2 separate regions of the Homo sapiens genome follow, and region 1 is linked to region 2. Evidence: fine-mapped QTL for protein levels in blood plasma. Region 2 holds a variant in brackets. A gene starts in the other region. All regions are shown on their reverse strands.

Region 1 (5,327 bases), not on the chromosome of region 2:
CCTCTAACTATCAAAATACTACCCAGAGAGGCCAGGCGCAATTGCTCACGCCTGTAATCCCAGCACTTTGGGAGACCCAGCACTTTGGGAGATCACCTGAGGTCAGGAGTTCGAGGCCACCCTGGCCAGCATGGTGAAACCCTGTCTCTACTAAAAAATACAAAAATTAGCCAGGTGTGGTGGTGGGCGCCTGTGATCCCAGCTACTCAGAAGGCTGAGGCAGGAGAATCGCATGAACCCAGGAAGCAGAGATTGTAGTGAGCCGAGACGGCGCCACTGCACTCCAGCCTGGGTGACAGAGTGAGACTCTGTCTCAACAAAAACAAAACCAAAACGAACAAACAAACAAAACTACCCAGAGAAATTCTGAACAAAGTGAATTACAGTTTATGCAAGGGTTCTTTCCCATGAGTGGATTGCATTGTGAATCTTAGGACTATAGACTCCACAGGCATGAAATAAAACCCCCAATCTTGGTATGAAAACATAATCTTGATTTCTCTGGATGAGTTAGATACACCATAACCTGCAAATAAGAAAGGAATGTAGGATGTTAAAAAGAGGGAAACATTTGCCAAGATGGTCCAATTCTCCCAGGTGGTCATGAGATCTTTGTTATTCTAAAATCTGGGATCCATTCAGGGGGAGGCAGGGTGACAGAATGTAGTGTCTGAAGCCTTAGCCACTAGAGGGAGAAAGTGTGCCTCTGGTGACTAGGCAGCCAGTGAAAGTTAACTCTTGAAAAGGACCAGCTTCAAGGAAGCTAAATTAAGCTTCAATAAACCAGGGGCAAGGACTACATCAACTTGGTAACTGTGAGGATGTATCTTTAAGATTTCACAATGGATCCTCTTCTACCAAATAATTACATTGTGTAAACTATCAGACATTTCATCTTAATTTCGATTATCTTTATTTCATATTTTCAAGGATCTCTGTAACAGTACAGATACCTAAACACTTAGGTTCAGTTTTTAGGAAGGACTTATGACAATTTCGAGAACTTATGTTATCCTTTACATATTGTGCATTTACATATTATAAACGACATACAGATTTTTTGAGGTAATTTAAGACTAAAATATTTGCTCTCTGTTGGGATGATTAGAGTGACTTACTGGTTCTCTACTCAGACTTTCCCAAATACGACTTTAGGAAAACTAATTTTAGCAACTAAGTGTTTAAAAATCTGCCTTATCAATATATAACTCACAGGAACTGCAATTTTTCTTAAAATCATCATAATGTTATTGCAAGCCTGAGCCCAAATAATTTCTCTCCAACGAAAATTTGTTAATCTTGTTTGCTGTACCACACTATCTACCATTTTCTATAGTTAAACAAAAAGAGACTATCGTTACAATTGTTTAATAATACATTGTATAGGAAAAAAAACTTTCAAGAAGTAATTCATTATAAAAGCTACAGTATCACACAAGTTATATGGTATCCATTACTTCGTTTGTGTCGATGTGAATTAATTCCTTCCCTATATCAAAATGTAAAGAAAAGACACTATCCAAAATTACCTACAGAGTGGTGCTTAAGGTACTGTTGATGACTTAATTTCCAATATATCTTTTTTTCTCAGCAGAAAAAAAAAACCTCAACAACTATTTCTGGGATTCTTCAAAGGAGTAAGAGTACGGTGCCTGTTCCGACTCTTCTAGCATTGATTTTCTTCACAATCTGTGATATGGTTTCTCAGGAACACCGTTTGGCAGTCCTGATAATTTCATGTGTTTTCAAATTTCAGCCATCCAGACTACACAGTTCACTATTTTCAGCTCCTTTCATTTTCCTTTTCCCTTTAATTATAGAAGTCTCTATTCCCTCTTTTCGCAAATGTGGTCAGGAAAGATACTAAATGCTACTATTTGTAGAAAGAATATGCATTTGTTTTTCTCTTGACGGTTCACTTAAGTTCTTTCCAAATAAACAAGCTGTGGTTGATAGTGATAGGTAACACTTCAAGGGTAGCAACTTTTTGTACTCATCCGTTCCTTTGACTTTGGAAGACGTGGCACATGCCCCGGGGGAGAAAAAGCAAGTCAACACTTTAGTTTTTAAACTTGCACTGTTAAAGCACTTTCAAAATAGTAATAGTTGAGCTTCATCTCAGACATGAATGTCTTTCTCAGTCTATTCCCCAGGACCCCTCTTATCCCGCTTCAGGTCCCGGTCAATGCGGTGCGCTTTCCGAAATGGGGCCGCAGAGTTGCCGGCGGAGACCAGTAGGTGGGAGGCTCCACGCACACTCCCCGACTCGGCCGGGACGCGGCTCCCGGACTCCGCGCAGGGCGCCAAGATCGCCGCCCCGCTCCCTTCCCCCGGCCTCCCCACCAATCCCAGTTTGAAAGAAAACTTCACGCGGCCGAAATGAACGTCACCTCACCGCTCCAAGCCTCCAGCCGGCAGAAAACGTGAGATTTATTATGACACGGGGAGGGGAGATGGGGGTCGCCGTGGCACACTCGGAAGCGGGTTACCTGGCCCCCGTCGGGGGCGGGGTCCGCAGTCCGGGGACCAACGGGCTGGGGGCGACGCGGCCGGGCGCGCGGGTGGGCGCGAGGGAGTGCGCGCGTCGCGGAGCCTCCGGGGCAGCACTTGTCCTGTAATCGATTGCCGAGCGCGCCGAGCGGCTTAGCGCGCAGACACGCGCACACGCGCCCGCCAGCCCGCGCGCGCGCGCACACGCGCTCTCATACACACACGCACAGGCGCTCGGGCCCCGCACACACGCACGCGCGCGCACGCACGTCCGCTCGCCCGCGCCCGGGGCTCCGCTGCCCGCCGCCAGCCGCCCGCCGCCGCCGCCGCCGCAGCCGCCGCCAGCCCGCCCTCCGCCCGCGGGCGTCTGCGCGAGCCCGGCCGGCGGGGGAGATGTGCTCGGGCTCCACCGGATCGGTTTCTCGGGGTTTGACCAGCTGTCCCGGGCTAACCCTGCTCCTCGCTGAAGATGGAGGAAGTAAAAACAGGATTACCCTTAGCTACAGATCCACTGCCTTAGTTTCCACCACCAACTGCAGTGCACAAACACACGTTAGGCACAGGAAAGAAAGAAAGACAGAGGACACATTAACAGTAAACACAAACAAAAGGGTGATGGGATTATTTTACTGCATGCACTGCTGAGGTAAATCTCCGCTTGGCTTTTGCGTGGTGAAGAACAGCTCTTGTTTTGTCTTCTGATTCATAGATTATATATAAATATGTGTATGATTTGCAAAGGGGGGAGTGTTTTCAAAGTTAAGTGTAATTATATAGCATCTCGTTTTGCACTGTGATGTGATCAAATGACTTGTTGCTGTTAACCAGTAATAATAATAATAATATAGGTATTTTTCTCTGGGAGGGATGGATTGTGGTTCTGATTAGGGTAATGATTTTTGTAAAGGACGCTCAGGGAATCGGGTTGAAGATGATGTCCTCTGCCTTAATTTATCGTCCCCTCCTTGTAATCTGTTTCTGGGATGTTAATCGATTAATCAGTTCTCATCTCTATAGCTGTCATGAATTTGGACTTGTTTTGCTTTGTTTTAACTTGAATTCCAAGAAGAAAGATTGGGTAGGCTGGAATAAATTGAAGCTGTCCAGATAGAAGGTAATATCCAGATCCTGTTGGAATTAAAAAAAAAAAAAAACCAAAAACCCTGGTATGACACATGTAAACAGGCAGCAGTTAAATCACTTTGACAGGTTCTAGTATGGGCGAAAGAGATGGAATTAAGATTTATTTATTTTTTTTCTTTTTTGCCAAGGGCCAAAAACAGTCCTGTGAAGTTGGCCTGGGTTCCTAGCTGGGTTCTGCCTGACTGTCCCTCCCCTCTACCCGCCCCCCCCCCCTTTTCTTTCAGTTTTCTTGTCTTAGCTTTTGGTCGATTCTTAAGGAACCGGTGGATCAAGTTTTTTCTCTTGTTAATCGCATTGCTATAGCACTGACTGACCTCTCTCTCTCTCTTTTTTTTCCTCTTTCCTGAAAGTACGTGGTGCCATTCCTGAGTGACTTTTCCTACTAGACCATCCCTAAGGGACGAGGGGGAGGGGTGGAAGGAGGAGGAGGAGGAGGACGAGGAGGAGGAGGAGGAGGAGGGGGGTGTTCTTCTCTCTCATTTCTTGGTTTTGTTTATCAGCCGATCTGTTTGCTGGATTTGGGCTTGGAATGACCCACCTGTAAAGTGCTTTTCCTTCCTCCTCCCCTTGAACTCTGCAGGGGGCTTGGCTTGGAGGGGGCAAGGGAGGGAAAGAGAGAAGGGGGAAACACAAAAAACTTCTTTCTTTCTCCCTCCGTTTATCTTCAGCCCGACATTGTCACCTCCTCTTTGAGGGGTTAGAAGAAGCTGAGATCTCCCGACAGAGCTGGAAATGGTGATGAATCTTTTTTAATCAAAGGACAATTTCTTTTGTATGTACATTTCGTTTCTCTTTCTCCTTTTTCTTTTTCCTTCTTTCCTTCTCTGAGGGTTAATAACCATTTCATTGATGGGGCAGCCTTCTTTCGCTTCTCCCTGACGTTTCTTTCTTTTTAATATGTGTGTGTTAAATGTGTACATTTTTAAAGAGATAAGCTCATTTGTAAAATATCCGAAGAAACTGCTCCTCTTTTAAACTTTACGGATCTCTTTCTTTAAAGCCTTATGTAATCATAATTTAAAAGAATGTGATAACAGTACAGCAGGTTGAAATTTAAGTGCTATGTAGTGACTGAGTTGGGAATTTGATCTGATTATTCCATAAAGAAAGAAATAAAAGTTTTTTTTTGGGGGGGGGGTAAGGGAGTGTGGTGGTGAAGAAGGGGAGGGGAGGGAGAAGGGAAGTGGTTTTGGAGACAAGAAGTGAAGCTGCCTGTTTTCCAGTAAGTAATGGAGAAATTCCAGGAGCCAGGGCTAAATATACTTGGCGATCAATACAGAAATGGCTCATTGTGAATAATTTAGCTGCTGGTGCAGTGAGAGTTTTGAAACTAAAGGCAAAAAGGACCAAGGCCAAAGGGGGAAAAAAAAGTAAAAATCTTCTCAGGACTTGTCAATTCTTAAACTTTTTTCCCCACAGAATACAGTTAGATTATCGATCTTTTCATTATGTGAATCAAAGCTAGGGGGTGTCATCTCATACAGTTTACTTTTGTTTCTGAGAATTATGTTCTGTTGTGTGGCGTTTGTGCATGAGAATAATTGCCCAAAGTTTTTTTTTTTTTTAAATGATTCTCTCTAGCACAACCAAAGTTTATGAAATTTTCAAAATCAGACTGTATTAAGTAGGCTTGGCATTTGTGTCCAAGCATGGTCTGGCAGGAAATTAAGGTTACATTGAACAGGTGCTTACAC
Region 2 (5,376 bases):
CCTGCAGTGTCTGTGAGGCCGCCTTGCTTGATGTGGACTTCAACAAGGCCAAGTCCCCACTCCCGGGCGATGAGGCGCAGCACATGGGCTGCGTCTTTTGTGACCCCGTCTTCCAGGAGCTGGTGGAGCTGAAGCATGCGGCCTCCTGCCACCCCATGCACCGCGGTGGACCAGGGAGAAGGCAGGGTCGAGGGCGGGGCCGGGCCAGGAGGCCCCCTGGGAAGCCCAACCCCAGACGGCCCAAGGACAAGATGTCAGCCCTGGCCGCCTACTTTGTATGATGACCCTGTCCTCCCTCACCCAGGCTGCAGTGCCATGCAGACACCTCATGGCACTTCAAACTATTAAAATGCATTTTATCTTATCCAGAGCTGGGGCCCCTTTGCTGGTGCAGCGATGTCAGAGCGTTACCGTGTCCCTGGGCACCTGTGGGGCCCTCTTTCCCTCTCCGAAACCCAATACGTCTCCCTTCAGCCTGCATACACGTGCCCAGAGTGCTCCCTGCTATCCCTACACCCTGGCAGTACGGGCAGGGATGCCCCAACCCTGAAGCCCTGGGGAATAGACCCAGTTTGCACTCACACCCCATCTCAATCCGTGCTGCTGATGGTAGCTGTGTGCACAAGCAGTGGCCCTGATGCCTTAAGGAAGGCGGCCTTGACAGCTGTGGCTCCGGCAGGAGAGGAGTTTAGTGGAGCAGGTGGGGCTGGGAGACCCCCTCCCTGGATCTGGCTTATGAATCCCCTTGGTCTTCGCTGCAGCCCCCTGCTCAGGGCCACGCTCTTGACCCCACGCTTCTCCGTCCCCTGCTCCCTGCTCCCATCTCTGAGAAGCCCTGTACATGGTGCCCGTGTGCGTCTGGCAGCTTCCCAGGACCTGCTGCAATTCCCATTCTCACAACAAGGCCTTATGGTCTTAGAGGCAGCTGGGTGCCCCATGGAACCCATTCACATGCCAGGTTTAGAAAATACCCTGTAGGCCAGACTGCCCTGTGGTGCCAGGTGCTGGTGGCAGCTGCCCTCTGACCTCAGTGCCTTCTTGTGCTCCCCTCCCCAGCCACCCGAGGAGAGACACCTGTGCGGGATCCACTGTGTGTTGGAAACTCCCTCCACACTCCGCCCGTGCCTCATTGAGTGATGACGGGAGCTCAGCAAAACAGCTTTCCAGACTGTTCAGTGGGACCTTTCTTTGAGGGGCAGGTCAGGAATGTTTCGGACTCAGACCCGCCCCCGCCCCAACTCAGTAGTAGATTCCCAGGCTGCACCAGGACTTATATGAGAGCTCCTGTAAGGAAACCCAGAGCCCACCAAGCATACCCCACCTGGACCCCCTTCCTGGAGGCCCTCACAGGTTAACACGGGGGTTCCCTGGAACACAGTTTGGAGAGCTACTCGAAGCTGAATGAAAATACAGAGACATGGGGAACCACATAGAGGGTCCTGGGATGTGTCTCAGAAGCACAGGCTTCAGGAAGGAGGGGGTGCTCTCAGAGCTTCTGCCCCCTCCCACCCACTCTGGTCCCATTCTGGGGCCCTAGCAAGGCCACACCTGTTAGGTCCCCAGTGCGGGGCTGTGACTCTGCTCTTCCACCCACAGGGCCCAGTGGACCTGGAGCCTTCTCCGCAGAAGGTTTCAAGACCTCCAGGACCCTTAGGTTATAGGGCTCATTCAGGCTTGGAGGAGCAGAGACGGTTCCTAGGTCTTAAACCCAGACCACCCAGTCCTTCCTTACTATGCTTCTGCACTGCGCTTTCAGCCACAGGCAGGGCTAATCACAAAGTGTTCCTTTATTTTCCTCTGCAGTTGTCCCTTGTGTGTGACCCTCCTTCAAGGCCCTTGGCTTCCGCAGCTTGATTCTGCACTCCGAGTCCATTCACCTTCTCCCATCCAATAGCATCCAACCCCGCTGCTACTGCTGCCAACCTGGCCTTGGGAGCAATGAGGACGAGGAAGGGACAAGACCCCTTTTAGGCCAGAACTGCCTTCAGATCAGCCACGCTCCATGGGACTGTACCTCTGCCCTGGAGGCTGGAGAGCTCAGTGGCTGCAGACTGTCTCAAGGAGCCCCTGGCCCTGCCCACCTAGCCAGGGGTGCAGCCTTGCCAGAGAAGCAGAGAAGCGTCTGTGGCTGGGTGGGTGATATTGAAAGATTCCTTTCACCAGGGTGGAAGCCAGGATCTGAGGCGTGATGGAATGTGGACAGTGAGGCAGTGACAGCGCCACAAGGCAGGAGTCATCTCCAGGCACGTCCTTGGCCTGGAGCCCATAGGGACAAGCTCCTGGTGGTGCCTCACTTTGCCATCCTCTCTAAGCCGCAGACCTTGAATGGAATCAGTGCTCAAGAGTCTAATTGGGCCCACTCTGAGGATGCCTGCGGGAATATCAGCTTTTACCGCACCACACTGCACTTTACAGTGTGGGAGGGCCTGCCCCACGCACCACCTCACCTATACTGCGGTTCTCAAACTTCACCCTACAGCCATTCTGTTGTAGGTGATCTCAGGGGCAGTTTGAGAAACAGTGGCTCAGGGTCTCACAGCAGCCCTCTGAGATAGGTTGGTTGCTATTGTCCCGATTTTTTCTCATCAAGAAACTGAGGCTCAGGTGAGCTAAGGAATGTGCCCAGGGCCACAGTTTATAAGAAGTAGCCTCAAGCCTTGCTCATGGTTACTGCCCTGACAGGGATCTAGGAAGGAGTGAGCAGGAGAATGGGATGAGGCAGGACCCTCCGCCCCAGCCCTGCTTTCTCTGCCCAGACACCTCCTGCCTTGCAGACCCAACCCCACCCCAGATGGTTTCCTTTCCAGTCACCCAGCTGCTAGTTCTCCAGGTTCCTGGTCTCACTCCAGGTTCCTCCTGTTAGAGAAGCATCCCAGAGACATTCATTCCTGGCAAGGATGAATGGTTTTCCATCTCCCTTAGGGTGTCCAGACTCTCTGCCCACACCTTCATAATTTAGTTCTTTATTTATATTTTCATCAAATTCTATTTTAATTATACCAG[G/A]TATTTCCCCCGATCACTGATGAATATCTTCTAATTATAATTGGATTCCTAATAAACTTATTTGGTAAATAAATCTCCTGTATCATGTGCACGTCTTGGGAAGGAAATTGTTGCCCACAGAAACGTGAGGAGGCTCAGAATGTGCTATTAGCAATGATGCAGACATTCTGCAAGTGATAGTTGCGTGGAAGGGCTGCAGACTCTCACCGTAGGGCATACATGGCTGAAGCGTCACCACCAGTGCTGGCTGTTGTCACAAACAGCAGGGGCCTAGTGGGAGCCCAGGCAGCACAAGCAGAGGGGATTTTCCCATTGGCCTAGAGCACAGTGTAAGCCATGCCCTGTCAGCCCATCTGAGAGAGATGATCTGCTCCATCCTCAAGGTGAAGGCCAGAGACGACCAAATAACTTGAGACTCTGGAGGAGCCTCTCAACCCAGAGAATTGTCTGGGGACCCCAGAGGCCTGGTACTCATTTTAGCCTGAGCATAATCTCAGAACATAGTTGGAGGGCTCCCTGGATTCTGTAGGGAAAAGAAGGTATTTTTGCCACCGATATGAAAGCCGATATGCTCTGAGTGCAGGTGAGTGTTTGATCTGCATGAAGATGCTGGGAGTGAGGACACCTGGGTCAGCCCAGCCTGGAAGAGGGAACCTGGAAATGCAAACATTTACATTGTTGGAGCAGGTGTCAGGGTTAAGCTGTTGGCAAGTCTGAGCCAGAGGGGCTGACACAAGCTGGGAACTGCCCCAGGTCTCTAGGCCTTTTCCCTACATGTGCAGGGAGTGAGGACAAGCACGAGAGGGGTCCAGGCCATGGTAGACACAGCTCCCTTTGGTCCAGTGGGATGGATTGAGTTTATTACCTGCTGTAGGCCTCAGCGAGGAGGAGCTGGTCATGCAGGTGTGGCCCCAGCTGCTATCTGCCCCACCTCTCCCTGAGCACTGAATAAGGATCTTTTGCTGAGGGTCTTGTGGGTAGGAAGGGCTAACAGGCAGTGAGACTCTGTCTGCCCCACGGAAGGACCTGGGAGGGAAAGCTGCTGGGACAGCTGGTAGGCCTGTGAGCAGGGGCTCTGCTAGGCTAGAGAGGACCCTTCTCTGAGTGCCCATCACAGTCCAGGCTCACTGGAACTAGAGGACACCCCTACTGAGCCCTCCATGAGAGCACCCAGTGCAGTCCTCGGTGACCCTGACATCCTCAGTCCATCTTCTGTGTTCTCAGGGGGTCTAAGACTTCCTGTCATCTGACTGGTCACTGTCATTCAACAAACAGTAATTGAAAAACCTGAATGGCCAGTGATGTGATCAGCTCCAAAGTACTTTATATTAATATATTCTACATGTTTATGGACAACACACTATCAAACCACGAAAAGACATGGAAGAAACTTAAATGCTTATTAGTAAGTAAAAGGAGCTGACCTGCAAATGACATGATACGTGATTCCAAGTATATTACAGTCCAAAAAGGGGGAAATAATTTCAAGTGTATTACAGTCAAACAAAGGAAAAAAGTAGAAAAGTCATCGACTTCCAAAGGTTAGGGGAGAGAGAGAGATGAATCAGTAAAGCCAGAAGATTTGTAGGGAAGGGAAATACACTGCATGATACTGTAATGGTGGATATATGTCATTATATATTTGCACAAACCCATAGCCATAGGATGTGCATCAGCGAGAAAAATTCCTTAAGGAAAATACTGACTTGTAGTGATAATGACCTGTCAATGTGGTTCATCAATTACAGGACATGTACATTTCTGATGGGACCCGTTGATAAGGGGGAAGGCTGGACATGTGTGGAGCCAGGGAGGATAGGGAATATCTTTCTACCTTCTTCTGTATTTTGCTATGAACTTAAAACTGCACTAAATTAGTGGCCAACAAAACTGTGGAGAAATGCTCATCATCACTAATCATCAAGATATGCAAATCAAAACCACAATGAGACGCCATGTCACACCAGTCAGAATGGCTATAATTAGAGTAAAAAAACAACAGCTGATGGTGAGGCTGTAGAGTAAAGAAAACACGTATACACCGTATTTCAGGCATTGTGGAAAGCAGTTTGAAGACTTCTCAAAGAACTTAAAACAGAGCTACCATTTGACCCAGCAATCCCATTACAGGGTATCTATCCAAAGACAAATAGATCATTATACCCAAAGGCCACATGCACTTGTATATTCACCACCACACTATTCACAATACCAAAGACATGGGATCAACCTAGGTGCCCGTCAGTGGTGGGTTGGATAAAGAAAATATAGTTTATATACCCCATGGAATACTATGCATCCATAAAAAGGAATAAAATAATGTCCTTTGAAGCAACATGGATGCAGCAGGGGGACATAATCCTAGGCAACTAA

Alleles and levels. Alleles are on the strand shown, and positions count from the first base shown. The strength of an association depends on the size of the effect and on how common the allele is.
As copies of A replace G in region 2, the plasma level of the protein whose gene starts at base 2,937 in region 1 goes up (strong association).

Evidence for each region. PIP is the chance, under the fine-mapping model, that this variant and not a neighbour inherited with it causes the effect. Protein levels are from antibody-based Olink assays in UK Biobank. Linkage for the fine-mapping came from a reference panel and not from the study's own genotypes, which makes the PIPs less certain.
Region 1: IKZF2 starts here. The variant in region 2 is fine-mapped to the plasma level of the IKZF2 protein (UK Biobank, PIP 0.99).

Annotation. Positions count from the first base shown.
Region 1 is chr2:213,149,222-213,154,548 of GRCh38, reverse strand. It overlaps IKZF2 (IKAROS family zinc finger 2), which reads left to right and starts at 2,937. Exons shown (of 9, transcript NM_001387220.1): 1 at 2,937-3,136; 2 at 4,302-4,405. RefSeq lists silencers at 2,347-2,706, 2,787-2,846 and an enhancer at 5,213-5,312.
Region 2 is chr22:22,218,091-22,223,466 of GRCh38, reverse strand. It overlaps IGL, the pseudogene IGLVIV-53 and the pseudogene TOP3BP1. Among named protein-coding and RNA genes, the nearest start is that of VPREB1, 24 kb to the left of the region's middle. The variant G/A (reference allele first, on the strand shown) is at 3,004.